Linked DNA regions of Homo sapiens. The protein of the gene in region 3 purifies or fractionates together with the protein of the main gene of each other region. This does not show direct contact. Each region holds a gene or a part of one and is shown on either strand. Other genes may lie near its edges.

Region 1 (3,995 bases), on a different chromosome or scaffold from region 3:
ACAAGATTTTTATATTGACTTAGTACATCTTTGGATTTGGCCAATAAAACATTCATTGAGAATAGATCTCCTGTAAATAGACTTCCTATTATCCATAATAGGATAGAAGCATAAGTTTAAGTAATGATAAATTCTTGCTTAATTTGGTACTAGATGGTGACATTGGTAGGGTTATTATTAATTTCCCCTTAATTACTTGGAGTTATTTTAAAAACATTCTTATATATGCTGCTCTGAATTTGATTCAGGTAACTTAGATTATACCAGCCAGTGGAGGCCATGTAGTTGGCTGAAAGGGCCGTATAACCTAACAGGTGTGTTAGGTCAGTCTATTCGCCCCTCCATAAGGAATATGTTCTGTACATGGGCGTGGTTCTTAATCACTCTGGAAGTATATTTCAGAATTCTGTGCATGACCCCATCTCTGGATATTCTGTTTCTCTTACTCATGTACATACTATTAGCCTATAATGAATGCCACCAAAAATTTCTCTTAAAAAAACAACAGGGTGATGTTGAAGAAGACGAAACGATTCCTGATAGTGAACAGGATATACGGCCACGTTTTCACCGATCGAGGACGGTGGCTCAGCAGCATGATGAAGATGGAATTGAAGAGGAAGATGATGATGATGATGAAATTGATGATGATGATACAATTTCTGACTGGAATCTAAGTAAGTCAGAAAGGGAAAAGCACAGTTGCCTACTTTGATGATAACTTTATTGGGGTATAATTCATCTACTGTACAGTTTACTACCCATTAAAGTATACATTTCATTGGTTTTTAGTATATTCAGAGAGCTGTTCAACCATTACCACAATCAGTTGTAGACTATGTTTTCATCACCCATACCCTTTAGCAGTAACTCCCTATTGTTCACTGGCTCTGGGCAACTACTAGTCAATATTCTGTCTCTGGGTTTGCCTATTCTAGACATTTCATGTAAATGGAGTCATACAATGCATTGTCCTTTGTGACCATCTTCTTTAACTTAGCATAAAGTTTTCACGGTTCATTTTGTAGCATTCACTTGTATTGTGAAATAATATTTCATTGTAATATGCCACATATTCTCCATTCATTGGTTGGTGGACATTTGTGTTTCTCTTTTTGTAGCTGTTGAGTTGTGATGCTATAAATACTCATGTATAATTTTTGTGTGTAGACTTTTTTTGTTTGTTTGTTTGTTTTTTTGTTTTGAGGCAGGGTCTCTGTCACCCAGGCTAGCATGATTATGCAGTGGCGCAGTCATGGCCCACCGCAGCCTTGACCTCCCTGGGCTCTGGTGATCCTCCCACCTCAGCTCCCCAAGTAGCTGGGACTACAGGTGCTCACCAATACACCTGGATGAATTTTTGTTTTTTTTTTTTTGGTAGAGACAGTTTTGCCATGTTGCCCAGGCTGGTCTTGAACTGTTGGGCTCAAGCGATCCACCCGCCTTGCCCTCCCAAAGTGCTAGGATTACAGGCGTAAGCCACTGTGTCTGGCCCAATGTGTATTCAGTTCTCTTGGGTAAACACTCAGGAGAAGGATTGTTGGGGTCATATGGTAACTGTATGTTTAACCTTTTGAGAAATAACCAGGATGTTTTCCAAAGTGACTGCACCATTCTGCTTTCCTAGCAGCATTGTCTGGAGGGTTCCAGTTTCTTCACATGCTCACTTGCTTTATTATCTCTTTATTATTATAGTCATTCTAGTGGACGTGAAGTGGTATTTTGTGGTTTTGGTTTGCATTTTCCTGGTGGACCTGCTCTTATTTTATCATTATTATATTCTTAAACTACCATTTCTCAAAAGGCTGTTTGTTTTAATACTGTAAGAACATTGCCACAAGCTTTTTTGGTTTTTCTAACATGAGTGTTTTCTGTCTGGTAATTTGCATGAAAATTGGCTATCATAGGTAATTCTAAAATAATATAAGTTGCTTTATTATATTCAAATTTATTATAAGTTGCTTTGTTATAGTCAAAATTTATGAAATATGCTTCTTAAAATATGTTAATTTCCAACCTTAGCTGCAAATCATATCACCTGTGGAGCTAGCATTCTGGCCCACGCTTCCTAATTGGGGATGAACCTAAACACCTGTGTTCTGATTTTGCTTGCTTGTTTGCTGGATTTTAAACCTCTACTGCTCTAGTTCAGGGTTTCTCAGCCTTGGCACTATTGGCATTTTGGGCCACATAATTCTTTTTTTTTTTCTACATGTGAATGCCACATCATGCATGTAATTCTTTGTTGCGGAGGCTGTCCTGCACGTTGTGGGATGTTAAGCAGCATCCCTGGCCTCTACCCAAAGATGCCAGCAGCACAAACACAGTTGTGACAACCGTTATCTCCTGGGGGAACAAAATCAACCCCAGTTTAGAGCCACTACTCTAGTTCAAAGTGTTGGGATTTCTAATAACTATGATTAAAGCAGTTAAGAACAGACATTATCAGTCTGGGCTGTGTTCTTCATTTGGTTAGATAATGCTAATTTCTCTGTTGCCTCTTCAGTTTCCTGTAACTAACATTCTATTTAGAGTGCCTAATGTGCCAGGCACTAGGCCAAGGACTTTGCATGCATATCAAAGTCTGTTTAATCATAAGTAAGAATAAAGTCATATTTAACATTTCCAACAACCTTGAATAGGCAAGAAAACTGCAGAAAGAGAGATATACCCAAGGTTAGCATAGCTAGTACTGATAGCACATCTAGTACTGGGACCCAAGTCTCACTTGTTAAGACAACACATGGTGTTTACTACTATTACAAATTACTTCCCAGTGTATCCCTACTTTCAGATTAGGGGAGCAGGATGGCTCAAGATCATTACACAGAAAACTCTACAAAATAATATACATACATGGATGGGGGAACACTTCCTCTTCACATCCCATTCTTTGTATCCTTCCAAAAGCTTTTCTGTGCGTGCTTGGGAAAACATACAGGCATCTTTTTTAGAGGAGAAGCCAGTTTTCTAAAAGTGAAATCAGATTATATGTACTCTGCTGCTTTCTTTCTGTGTATCGTATGCCTCATTCTTCCTCAGTACATACAGATTTAGATTTCCTTTTGTTGCATGTCAGTGTACTGTTTAGTTGTATGGCTCTACCATGTGGTATAACTAAGATCCTTATTGATGGGTAAGGTGTTAATTTCTGGCCAATGTAATGGTTTTGTTTTGGTTTGGTTTGGTTTTTTTTTTTTTTTTTGAGGATTTTATTATTGTCTAGTAGTTTGTGATTAGCCATTTACTATGCCTAGTTCACGTTGGAAATTTCTGATATTTTCTTAGTCCATTTTGTACTACTATAACAGGATACCTGAAGTTCAGAATGGAGGGGCTGCATCTGGTGAGAACCTCCTTGCAACATCATCTGATGACAGAAGGACACACTTAAGAGCTCAATTCACGCTTATAATAAGCCAACTCTCTTGATAACTAACCCACTCCTACAGTAACGACATTAACCCATTTATGAGGGCAGAACCCTTAAGACCTAATCATCTCTTGATAGGCCCCACCTCCCATCTTCGTTGCTTTAGGGATTAGGTTTCTAATACATGAACTTCAGGAACACGTTCCTACCCATAACAGTTAAATGATATTTTTGTTGTTCTTTTTGATTTTGTTGCTCTTGTCTAAATTATTATTATAATAAAATCTGGGTTGATTTATAGTCCCATAGTTAATTCTTTGTAAAGAGTATTTTCTAGCATGCGTTATGTTTCATGTGCCAGTGACTTTTCTTCCAGTTTTTGTGTCTAAAGTCCAGCTAAGTAATTGTCTGTTTAATTCTAGATGATATACTGCTGGAAATGTTAAGTAGAGTTAATAATGTATGTTTTTTGCGTGATTGTAACAGTGATTGTAATCATGATTGTAATATGAGTGTATCATATTGAATGGTTATGTTAGAAGCACTGAATTGAGTGGCACAGTATTTGTTTTACTGTATAGACAGAATTCTAGTATGACAGTTATGTACAGAATACAATGTG
Region 2 (3,995 bases), on a different chromosome or scaffold from region 3:
GCCTGGCTTTTTTTTTTTTTTTTTTTTTTTGCGTTTTTGCGTTTTTATAAAGATGGAGTCTCGCCGTGTTGTATAGGCTGGTCTTGAACTCCTGGGCTCAAGTGAGCCACTCACCTTGACCTCTCAAAGTACTGGGATTATAGGCATGAGCCACCGCACCCACCCAACACTTTTAAAAACCAAATAAATAGCTGAGTACTAAAATCAGTACTTTGCCTATCTTGTAGCAAGAATAGTTGAACATTAAAGAGAATGAATACTATGTTCATGTCCAAAGTAAGGATTCCTGTCTCAGAAAAGAGAGATACTGTCTGAGGCTTGAGTCGTCTTGCTCAGATGTAATAAGAATTTTTGGCCGGGTGTGATGGCTGTAACCCCAGCACTTTGGGAGGCTAAGGCAAGAGGATTGCTTGAGTCCAGGAGTTCAAGACTAGCCTAGGTAACATAGCGAGACCTCATCTCTACTAAAATTCAAAAAAATTAGCTGGGTGTGGTGTCACATTCCTGTAGTCCCAGCTACTTGGGAGGCTGAGGCGGGAGGATCACGTGAGCCCAGGAGTTTGAGGCTGCAGTGTGCCATGATCGTGTCACTACACTCCAGCCTGGGCAATAGAGCAAGACCCTGTGTCAAAAAAAGAGAATTGGCTGGGCGTGGTGGTTAATATAATCCCAAAGTGCTGATATTATAGGCGTGAGCCACCATAATCAGCCCCCAATTTAAAGGAAAAAAAAAATCTAGAATGGAAATCGCTAAAAAAGGTTTTCACGGTTTTGTAGTATAACATTTTTATAAAGGTCTGTATAGACCACAGAGATATCAAGGACAGGTATTGTAACCTAATGCAGGTGGTGAGTTTTAGAATTTCTGTTTCAAGAATACTTTTAACAGTGTGGAGTCTATGGGGTTGAGGAAGGGGAGGGGTGAAGAAGCATAGGCGGAGAGAGAAAACAACTCACAGGCTCTAAAAAAACCTGTTAACATTATATAAACATTAGAAATTCATTTCATAAGGGAATCAAAATTATGCTTCATATAATTGATAGTAATAATCTGCTTAATCACACCTTACATTTCTGTCTTACTTGTAACTTTTCCAAATGTTTTCATATTATCTCATTTTATCCTCACAAGTGTGAAATAGGCAGAGTAGGTATTGCCATTTTATAGGAAACAAACCTGAGGAATAGAGAACTAAAAAGCTGCAAGGCACTATTGAAAGAGTACAGAAACAGAAGTTAGGAGACTGCAGAGAACAGTGTAAATTCTATGTGGAACTCTATGTTGCTGCTAAAATGGATAAGGGAAATTCTATATAAAGAAGTGGACATGACTGGGCCCCGTGGCTCACGCCTGTAATCCCAGCACTTTGGGAGGTCGAGGCGGGTGGATCACCTGAGGTCAGGAGTTCAAGACCAGCCTGGCCAACGTGGCGAAACCCCGTCTCTACTAAAAATATAAAAATTAGCTGGGCGTGGTAGCATGCGCCTGTAATCCCAGCTACTTGGGAGACTTGGGAGAACTGCTTGAACCCAGGAGGCAGAGGTTGCAGTGAGTCGAGATTGTGCCACTGCACTCCAGCCTAGGCAACAGAGTGAGACTGTCTCAAGAAAAATAAAATAAAATAAAAAACTAAAAAAAAAAGAAGTGGACATGTCAAACAGAAACCTGTTTTTGTTAAGAAAGAAACACATTTGTTTATATAGAAAAAGCAAATTATATTTATGAATTATATAACAGCAATCATCTTGGGGCAGGACTACTAAGGGCTTTTATATTATACATTATATTACCTTTTTAATAACAAGTATGTGTTGCTTCTTTTTAACTTCTCATTTTGAAATAATTTTAGATTTAATTAAACAGAAAAGTCACAAAAATAGTACAAAGTACTTACACCTTAGTGAAAGGCATAAGATACCCTATTTATTTATTTATTTATTTTTAAAGAAAAAAAATAGCCAGGCATGGTGGCTCTTGCCTGTCACCCTTGCTACTTGGGAGGCTGAGGTGGGAGGATCGCTTGAGCTCAGGAGTTGGAGGTTGCAGTGAGTTATGATCACACCACTGCGCTACAGCCTAGGAGACAGAGTAAGACTCTGTCTCTGAAAAAAATAAACAAACAAAAAAGGGCATATTTCACACTGTTAGATTTGTCATTGCAGTGGCTGCACATGTACGCGCGCGTGTGTGTGTGTGTAATTGACACTAGAAAGGTTCCCTTTGCAGTATGCAGGAGGCCTAGAATAGAAAAAAGAAATATAGAACAGCTTGGTCTTCTCAGCCTGCTCCCCTTTTTTGGATTTTATACAAGGAGGTGCCTGCAGAATGCAGCAGTGGTTCCAGTTTATTTTATGTTAAGGCTCACACACAAATTTCTGTTTTTTTTTTTTTTGTCAAAAAATTTTTTTGTCTCTGGATCTCTTTACACTCTTAAAAATGATTGAGGCTGGACACTGTGGCTCACACCTGTAATCCCAGCACTTTGGGAGGCTGAGACAGGTGGATCACTTGAGGTCAGGAGTTTGAGACCAGCCTGACCAACTTGGAGAAACCCCGTCTCTACTAAAAATGAAAAATTAGCTGGGCATGGTGGCGCATGCCTGTAATCCCAGCTACTTGGGAGGCTGAGGCAGGAGAATCACTTGAACCCAGGAGGCAGAGATTGCGGTGAGCCGAGATCGTACCATTGCATTCTAGCCTGGGCAACAAGCGAAACTCTGTCTCAAAAAAAAAAAAAAAGATTGAGAATATCACAGAGATTTGGTTTATATGGATTATATCTATCAATATTTACTGTATTAGAAATTAAAACTGGCTGGATGTGGTGGCTCATGCCTGTAGTCCCAACACTTTGGGAGGTCAAGGTAGGAGGATCACTTGAGCCCAGGATCTTGCTATGTTGACCAATCTGGGCAACATAGCAACATCCCATCTCTACAAAAAAAAAAAAAAAAAAATTAGCCAAGCATGGTGGTATGTGCCCGTAGTCCTAATTACTCTGGAGGCTGAGATAGGAGGATCACTTGAGCCCAGGTTGAGGTTGAGGCTGCAGTGAACTATGATTGTACCACTGCACTTCAGCCTGGGCAACAAAGGAAGACCCCAGTTCTGGGAAAAAAAAAAAAAAAAGAAGAAAGAAAAAAGTTAAAATAGAAAAATTTAAAACATTAGTTCACTTAAAAGTACCAATAAATTGCTGAGCACAGTGGCTCACGCCTGTAATCCCAGCACTTTGTGAGGCCAAGGCAGGCGGATCACCTGAGGTCAGGAGTTCGAGACCAGCCTGGTCAACATGGTGAAACCCCATCTCTACTAAAAATACAAAAATTAGCCAGGCATGGTGGTAGGCACCTGTAATCCCAGCTACTTGAGAGGCTGAGGTGGGAGAATCACTTGAACTGGGAGGTAGAGGTTGCAGTGAGCCAAGATTGCGCCATTGCACTCCAGCCTGGGCGACAGAGTGAGACTCCATCTCAAAAAAAAAAAAAAAAAAGAAAAGTAACAATAAATTAATAAATTCATGAGAAGACTGGTGTGGTTTTACATTTTTGCATAGCTCTTTAGTGTCTGGCTTACTAGAAGATACTTTGAGAACCACCGCTGTCGTCAGAGCCAGTGGCAGGTAGGCCAAATGGAGTGATAGTCTGGCACCCAGAACAAGGCTTATTAAATTAGTTTCTTCATAGTGAAGAACATTCAGAACAGATGGGAGCAGGTTCATGGTAATCGTTCAGGCAGAAGCTGCATTGGTTATCTTGGTTGTTGTTGCTTTGTCCAGACACCTTCCCAGTCAGTCACCTGTGTGTCATCTCTCCCTCTATATTCGTTGTAAGTATGTGCTTTGGTAAAAGTCCTACTGTCAGTCCTAAACACTTTTCTACATTACAGATCATTCATTCAACATTTTTTTTTTTTGAGACGGAGTTTTGCTCTTGTTGCCCAGACTGGAGCTCAGTGGTATGATCTCGGCTCACTGTAACCTCCACCTCCTGGG
Region 3 (3,995 bases):
TGTACCCTTCAATGGCCCCCAGTTGCCTACAGGGTCAAGTCTGAAGTCATTCCTATGGCCAATGAGCTCTCTATCATCTGATCTCTGGCTACACCTCTGTCTTACCTCCTACCACACCTTCTGTAACTACCTCCACCCACTACCTCTTCACAACTACCAGGAATATCCTTCCCACCTCTGTCTTCTTTTGGTTTGTCTCCTGATTCCCTACTTATTCTGTAAGTCTCAGCTCCCATATCACCTACTCTTTGACACTTTTCCCTCCCGGCAAACTCTGACTTTCATTCATTGGGCCTCCAGAATCCCCACCACATCCACTGATCCCCACTGCACTTATCACATTATATTGCAATCGATTGTTCACATGTCCATCCTCTTTACTAGTCTACGAGCTCTTCAGTGGCAATCTCTGTATTCCTAGCGCCCAAATATATTTTGAAAGAAAGAATAAAGGATGTTTTAGCAATTTGGAGTGCACAGAGCCAGAGTGGCTGTAGCAGAACCAGCACCAAAACTGCTCCTGCCTCAGAACCTTTGCACTTGCTATTCCCTCTGCTTGAAGCACTCTTTCTCCAGGTATCTACCTGGGTTGCCCACCCACCCCCAACTACTTTCAGGTCTGCACAAATGTCACCTGCTCAAAGAGGCCTTCCCTGGCTACTCTATCTAACATACAGTGTGCGTGCATGTGCACGTGCACGCACACACACACACACACACACCCCTCATCACTATCTACCTCTCCTGCTTCATTTTTCTTCAGAGCTCTGATCACCACCTGGCATTATATTATATATTTCTGTATTTGTTGACTGTCTCCCCTACTAGAATATAAGCTCCACAGGGGAAAGGACTTCTGTTTTGTTGGCTGCTGAACCTTCAGTGTCTAGAACAGAGCCAGGCACCGAGAAGGTACTCAGTAACTATTTATTGAACATTGTTAAACTTGGATATAGACAGAGCTGAGTTTGAATCCTATACATATTATTTTCAAGTTCTGTGTAACCTTGGGCTAGTTGTCTGTTTCCTTTGAACTTCACTCTCCTCATCTATAAAATGAGGATTACTCTGCATACATCATAAGTAAGAATTAAATGAGATCAAGTATGTGAAAGTACCTAGCATGATGCCTGGCACAGAGAAGGCAAGTAATGTCTGTTAGCCAAAATCTGTTAACAGATCAATGTCTTCCACTTCCCTAATTCCCACAATGCACCCTTCCTTAACCTCAGCCCTTCTAGTGTCCGTTGTGGTCAGACCATTATTCCTGTGTCTGGGCCTCAACACTTACTTGCCACAGTTGTAGAGGTCACAGCAGAAGCAGGTGTTGCCCCGGATGCGAGGTGTGCAGAATTCACGGCTGAGGTGAGGGCAGTTAACCTGACGGTATATAACAGTGAGGAGATGAGCTGGCATTGGATAGGAAGCAGGACCCTCTGGGATTGGAAATGCGAGTTAGTGACTGATGGAGACAGTAAGGATGGCTTTGAAATGAACACCCAATGTGTGGGAAGGATGGGGCTGGATGGGGAGCTGGCCGAACTTGTGCATGAGGCAAGTCACTGTGTAGCTGGGCTCATGTCCAGCCTCTGCCACAGCCCTCAGTGCCCCATCCCTGAATGGTGGAGATGGAGAGAAGGAAGGACAGATGGAAGGACAGACGGAAGAACAAATGGACTGAAGGAAATGAGAATATGAGGGCAGGCAAAATCAGGGTACAGGAGGAAAGAAGATAAGGTGGGAAGGAAGACAGAGGAGCCGGCGCATGCACTCTGAAGTACAATAGTACCTCTCTAGCTGCCTGGGTAAGGTTCCTCATAACCCTCGTGGAAGGAGAATTTTTGGTTGAGGAACTTATGACCTTATGTAGGAAAAATAGGGTTAGGGGGACCAGGGTTACAAGTGAACCTATGGAAGTCATTATTAATATTTTTACAGTCACCAAATTAACGCAAGAAAGCTATCACAACAAAATCTAGAGAACAGCAATGACATTTTACACATTTTGAGTTAGCAAAAAGGTTTTAAAAACGGAAAAGAATTTCATTTACCATCTCTTGTTAGCAAGAAATTGTCCAGCTCTCTCCCCCATCCAGATGCAATGAAGTGCTGCTAAATTTGTCTTGCTTTGTTATAGAGAATATTCATAGCAAATGGGCATTTTTTTCTATATTGGGTCCTTCATCCAAATGCTTACTGCCTTTCAGATAAGCTGTTATCATATATGCATTTCTATTCCTCCTATCTAACCTGAGAACAGTGAGAGAAATAGTAAATTTATGGTTGTTAAAAGAAAAAGGAGTCAAGTGGATGGCAGAGACATAATCAAAGTATTTGCCATGGTGCCTTTGGAGCAGGACTGCTTTGCCTTACTCCAAGGGCACCCATTCACATTGTATTTTATGTAAAATGGCTTCCCCTGAAGCTGTGCAATGCAGTGGCCATTTTACATCCAATTGCCTTCCTTTTCTCTTCCCAACTGAAAGTTTACCATTTTTCTAACTATTTGGGAATGATTGACTTTCAATGTGAGGTTAATAGAGTACAAAATTGTCAAGATTCCTGGAAGCCTAGGTACAGTTTCATATGGAGAAATCCCTGGGTTGGGAAGGGATTATTGTATACTGAAATGAAAGCTCTCCAAAAATGACCTGGAGTCATACTTTGCCTCACTACGCATTGCATCTAGCTCTGCTTGAGGCAACATGGAACATAAGGAGAGCTGTTTGGGGCAGAAGAGAGACTCATCTGTGCATGCTCAAGCATTATTAGGCTGGCCTCTTGGAGGTGTTATGAGAGGGGCCAGGCTGACAGTCCCAGCCTCCCCAGAGCATAAAGGTGGATCTGGCTTCTCAGTTACCCTCATTTGGCTTCCAGACCCATCCTATGTGTGGAACTCAGGCTCTGCCTCCGTAGTTCAGGCCTAGTGCCCTGGTGGGGCTTCCACTTTTATTCCAACTGAGCACTGAGTTCAGGCAACTGAACCATCATCCACAGAGATGGGGGAGGGTCATGTCCTGTGGCCTCTGTACTCTCATTTGTCCCCCTGAGGATCAAAGCCACATATGGGGAGGCTCCCGGCTGGGGTCAGAGGGTCAGCCTGTGGCCACAGAACAAAGTAAAACTGATTAGGCCTCATGAGGCTCCAACCTATGACCATGGCCTCATTAGCAATGTGCTCTGACCCACTGAACAAATCAGCTATACATACCTAGAAATAAAACTTAGGCCCATGAAAAGGAGTAAAAGAAAGGGTGTTTCAGGCAGAACAGGGGACTTTCCCAGGAGGTAAAGACATGCAGCCTCATTCTGGCTCACCTCCTCAGCTTCCTTCTGTGATGTCTTGGGAACATAATGGCACCGGTTAGCGTAGAGTGGTTTCAGATCCTGAAAAGGGAAACACCAAAACAAAGGGGTTTTGACTTTGGAAAATAAAACAGCAAGTGTTGTACTTGGTAATAAAAGGTTTGAATACACACACACACACACACACACACACACAGAAGCAGGCAGGCAGTAGATTGGGTTAATTTCTGAAAGTCACCTGTCTAGGGAGACTGAGTGAAGATTAGACAAAAATACTTTAAAAATTACTTTCTATTAGACTACTTGGTTAATGAGAAATTATGAAACTGATTGAGAAATGGGCTTCTTGAAATTTCCTCTCTGGTTTTCTTTTACTTCTGGCCTTTGTCTTCTTGTAAACAGTCCTCAGGGAACAAGATGCAAAACTCCAGGTTATTATGAAATGACACTTTCAAGCAGAGAGAGCTCAAGTCCAACAATGAGGTTTCATTATCACCTGGGGACAGGACTATGGTTGGCTGACTTGTACCTCTTGCTGTCATTTCCGCATCATTTTCAGAAGGAAGAGCTCAGGAAGCAAGCCTCAGGAGGAGGGGCAGCTCCTGAGGCTGCTGTAGATTTTAACTCAATTGAACTGTGAGCCATTTTCACCCAACTGCATAGATTAGATAAAATCAGTGAACTCCAAA
Region 4 (3,995 bases), on a different chromosome or scaffold from region 3:
TTTAGTAGAGATGGGGTTTCACCATGTTGGTCAGGCTGGTCTCGAACTCCCGACCTCAGGTGATCTGCCCGCCTCAGCCTCCCAAAGTGCTGGGATTACAGGCGTGAGGCACTGCGCCCAGCTTGGCCACTCTTTATGGAGATGAGCCTTTAGCATGTGATCGAGTCACATGCAGCTCCTGTGAGCCACTTGAAACCAGTCTCATGGGGTACGCTTCAGCAGCTGCTTGTGAACCATGCTTTTTTTTTTTTTTTTTTTTTTTTTTGAGACAGAGTCTCACTCTCTCCCCCAGGCTGGCCTCCCAAAGTGCTAGGATTACAGGAGTGAGCCACCACACCCAGCCTGAACCATGCTTCTAAGAACATAATATCAAGCTGCTCTTTATGATGGTGTCTTGATTTTGGCGGGGAGAGGGAGGACAAGGTCTCACTCCCGTTGCCCAGGTTGGAGTGCAGTGGCGTGATCACAGCTCACTGCAGCCTTGGCTTCCCAGGCTCAGGTGATTTTCCTACCTCAGCCTACCGAGTAGCTGGGACTACAGCTGCAAGCTACCACACCTGGCTAATTTTTTGTATTTTGGGTAGAAACGAGCCTTGTTGGCCAGGCTGGTCTCAAACTCCTGAACTCAAGCAACCCGCCCACCTCATCCTCCCAAAGTTCTGGAATTACAGGTGTGAGCTACCGCACCTGGCCTTGATTTTGATATTAACTCAGATACAGTAACAAGAGCGAAAGGGAATTTGCCCACCTAGTTAGAGGAAAGAAAGATGTTACGGCACATCTATTTCACATCCTGCCATTCGTCATATGTTTGTCGTGTGTTTGAATGGCCATAATAGCTTCTATTTGGCCCTTGGGATTCTGTAAGTAATTGAAAGTCCTTGCCCTCAAGAAGCTTGAAGTCGGCCGGGCGCGGTGGCTCACGCCTGTAATCCCAGCACTTTGGGAGGCCGAGACGGGCAGATCATGAGGTCAGGAGATCGAGACCATCCTGGCTAACACGGTGAAACCCCGTCTCTACTAAAAATACAAAAAAAATTAGCCAGGCATGGTGATGGGTGCCTGTAGTCCCAGCTGCTCGGGAGGCTGAAGCAGGAGAATGGTGTGAACCCAGGAGGCGGAGCTTGTAGTGAGCCAAGATCGCACCACTGCACCACTCCAGCCTGGGCGACAGAGGGAGACTCCATCTCAAAAAAAAAAAAAAGAAGCTTGAAGTATAGCCAGGAAAATAGACCCTCTCTTTCATGCGATTAGACTGTTTTAAGAAACTGCAACTACAGAGTTAACAGTAAGAAGGCAGAGTCGTGCTCCACCATGACTACCTGTGTTGTAGCATAATTGCCTCTTTTCCCATCAGATACTGGTAGTAGATGCTTTAGGTATAATCTATTGCAGCACAGAATTTTCCTGCCATTAAGAAGGCAGGAAAATTATTCTTTTTTCTTCTTTTTTTGAGGCAGAGTTTTCCTCTGTCACCCAGGCAGGAGTGCAGTGGCATGATCTCGGCTTACTGCAACCTCTGCCTCCCAGGTTCAAGCGATTCTCATGTCTCAGCCACCTGAGTAGCTGTGATTACAGGTGTGTGCCACAATGCCTGGCTAATTTTTGTATTTTTAGTAGAGATGGTGTTTCGCCATATTGACCAGGCTGGTCTTGAACTTCAGGCCTCAAGTGATCCACTTGCCTCAGCCTCCCAAAGTGCTGGGATTACAGGCATGAGGCACCATGCCTGGCATAAGTTTACTTTTAAAAGTAAAAAATAATGCCTTGGTCTTTCTATGTTAGATTTCATATATCAAAGTTTTCTGGCTCTAGGCCAGGTATGGTGGCTCACGCCTGTAATCCCAGCACTCTGGGAGGCTGAGGAGGGCAGATCACTTGAGGTCAGGAGTTCAAGACCAGCCTGGCCAACATGGTGAAACCCTGTCTACTGGCCGGGCGTGGTGGCTCATGCCTGTAATCCCAGCACTTTGGGAGGCCGAGGCAGGTGGATCACCTGAGGTCAGGAGTTCAAGACGAGCCTGACTAACATGGAGAAACCCTGTCTCTACTAAAAATACAAAAGTAGCTGGGGTGGTGGCACATGCCTGTAATCCCAGCTACTTGGGAGGCTGAGGCAGGAGAATGGCTTGAACCCGGGAGGAGGAGGTTGTGGTGAGCCGAGATCACGCCATTGCACTCCAGCCTGGGCAACAGGAGCGAAACTCCCATCTAAAAAAAAAAAAAGAAAGAAAGAAACCCTGTCTACTAAAAATACGAAAATTGTCTGAGTGTGGTAGCGGGCGCCTATAATCCCAGCTACTTGGGAGGCTGAGGCAGGAGAATCGCTTGAACTAAGATAGCAGAGGTTGCAGTGAGCTGAGATGGCACCACTGCACCCCAGCCTGGGCAACAGAGTGAGACTCCATCTCAAAAAAAAAAAGTTTTCTGGCTCTAACTGGAATATTTGGATGAATAACTGACACTAATGATGAAAAATTAACTCTTTTATCCACTTTATCTCCAGCAGTTTGCAAAAGTGAAGAGAAGGGCTTATTCATTTAGTTTTCTTCCATCTAGCTGACAGCTCAAAGGCTCCTTTTTGATGTTCAAAGGTGGCTTTGTAGTTGGTTTGCAGATTACCACTTGGAATGTGATCCAGTGTCACCAGTCTCTTTGCTATCTTACCTTTACGTGGTATCTTTCACTATTGTAGATATTTAATAGTTTAGACATTTTGGTAATCTAGCCTTATCCTCAGTTTCCCACATTCTAAAAAAATGATTGCTTACTATAGATTTTAAAGTACCATGAATTATGTAATTTGAAATGATTCAAGTCATGGTACCTGAACATTCTCCCTTCTTCGTCATTAGCTAATTCCTGGAGAGCATTATAAGATTTCTGTTTGATGACCGCAATTAAATTAATTAGTCTTCTAGATTCTGAAGGCTTGTGGATTTATACCCCTTTGGAAGCTTTTTTGTTCTAGGAATGTCAAGACCTTTTTGATGTTAACTATCTTTCCATCTGTCCTTTTTATGTAGTGAAACTGAAAAATGGATTTGATGTTATTCAAAGACACCCTCTTTTATACTTGTTGTATGTGGCTCTAAGATGAAGTTGGCTGTGTGTGGATTTTCGTTTTGTTTCATTTTGTATTTTTCTTTATTTTTTTGTGTGTGGATTTTCAAACATGTTACCTCCTTGAACTTACCTGTAGCCCCTCACACATGCAGGATTCAAGCCAAGCCCAAGATGTGGGCCTCAACCCTACCTTCGGTTTCATGACCTCTTAGCTCTTAGTGGCTGCCACCTAACTACTTTCCTCTGTTTCTTTTTTTTTCTTTTTTCTTTTTTTTTTTTTTTTTTTGGAGACAGAGTCTCGCTGTGTTGACCAGGCTGGAGTGCAGTGATGCGATCTCAGCTCACTGCAACCTCTGCCTCCTGGGTTCCAGCGATTCACCTGCCTCAGCTTCCCGAGTAGCTAGATTACAGGTGTGCACCACCACGCCCGGCTAATTTTTGTATTTTTAGTAGAGACAGGGTATCCCCATGTTGGCCACACTGGCCTCAAACTCTTGATCTTAGGCGAGCCACCAACCTCAGCCTCCCAAAGTGCTGGGATTACAGGCGTGAGCAACCATACCCAGACTCCTATTTCTTAGAATAGTATTTTTTGTAGGTGATTGATCCTGGTGCATTTGAGAGCACAAGTGGTTTACTTTGGAAGGGAGAAAAAAGAGGCAGTATAATGGCATCTTAAATACCTGGGACTTTGACAGCTGTGGCCAACATCACAGATCTTTTGTGATACTCTGAATTTTGTACTTATACAATTGGTTTCCAAAATAAGTGGTTACAACCAATTAAAATCTTCAGAGGATTTGTACTATATGTAATATGGAAGGAAATCTTTGAAATCCTTAGTACTTTGGTTAATGATAGCTATACCTCTTTTTTTTTTTTTTTTTTCCTCGAGGCAGAGTCTTACTCTGTCGCCCAGGCTGGAGTGC

The links. Proteins that work in one complex are often made in the same cells at the same time.
Region 1: the proteins of TMEM255A (region 3) and TNPO1 purify together in Homo sapiens (affinity purification with mass spectrometry; one large-scale study listed by BioGRID and IntAct). This does not show direct contact.
Region 2: the proteins of TMEM255A (region 3) and MACO1 purify together in Homo sapiens (affinity purification with mass spectrometry; one large-scale study listed by BioGRID and IntAct). This does not show direct contact.
Region 4: the proteins of TMEM255A (region 3) and KCTD2 purify together in Homo sapiens (affinity purification with mass spectrometry; 3 studies listed by BioGRID and IntAct, with this or other methods). This does not show direct contact.

What each region holds. Positions count from the first base shown.
Region 1 is NC_000005.10:72,882,556-72,886,550, forward strand, and holds part of TNPO1 (transportin-1), read left to right. Parts: intron 1-508; coding exon 509-677; intron 678-3,995. UniProt on the Homo sapiens protein: Functions in nuclear protein import as nuclear transport receptor. Serves as receptor for nuclear localization signals (NLS) in cargo substrates.
Region 2 is NC_000001.11:25,437,292-25,441,286, forward strand, and holds part of MACO1 (macoilin), read left to right. Parts: intron 1-3,995. UniProt on the Homo sapiens protein: Plays a role in the regulation of neuronal activity.
Region 3 is NC_000023.11:120,283,836-120,287,830, forward strand, and holds part of TMEM255A (transmembrane protein 255A), read right to left. Parts: intron 3,388-3,995; coding exon 3,319-3,387; intron 1,862-3,318; coding exon of another isoform or gene 1,790-1,861; intron 1,381-1,789; coding exon 1,292-1,380; intron 1-1,291.
Region 4 is NC_000017.11:75,053,620-75,057,614, forward strand, and holds part of KCTD2 (BTB/POZ domain-containing protein KCTD2), read left to right. Parts: intron 1-3,995.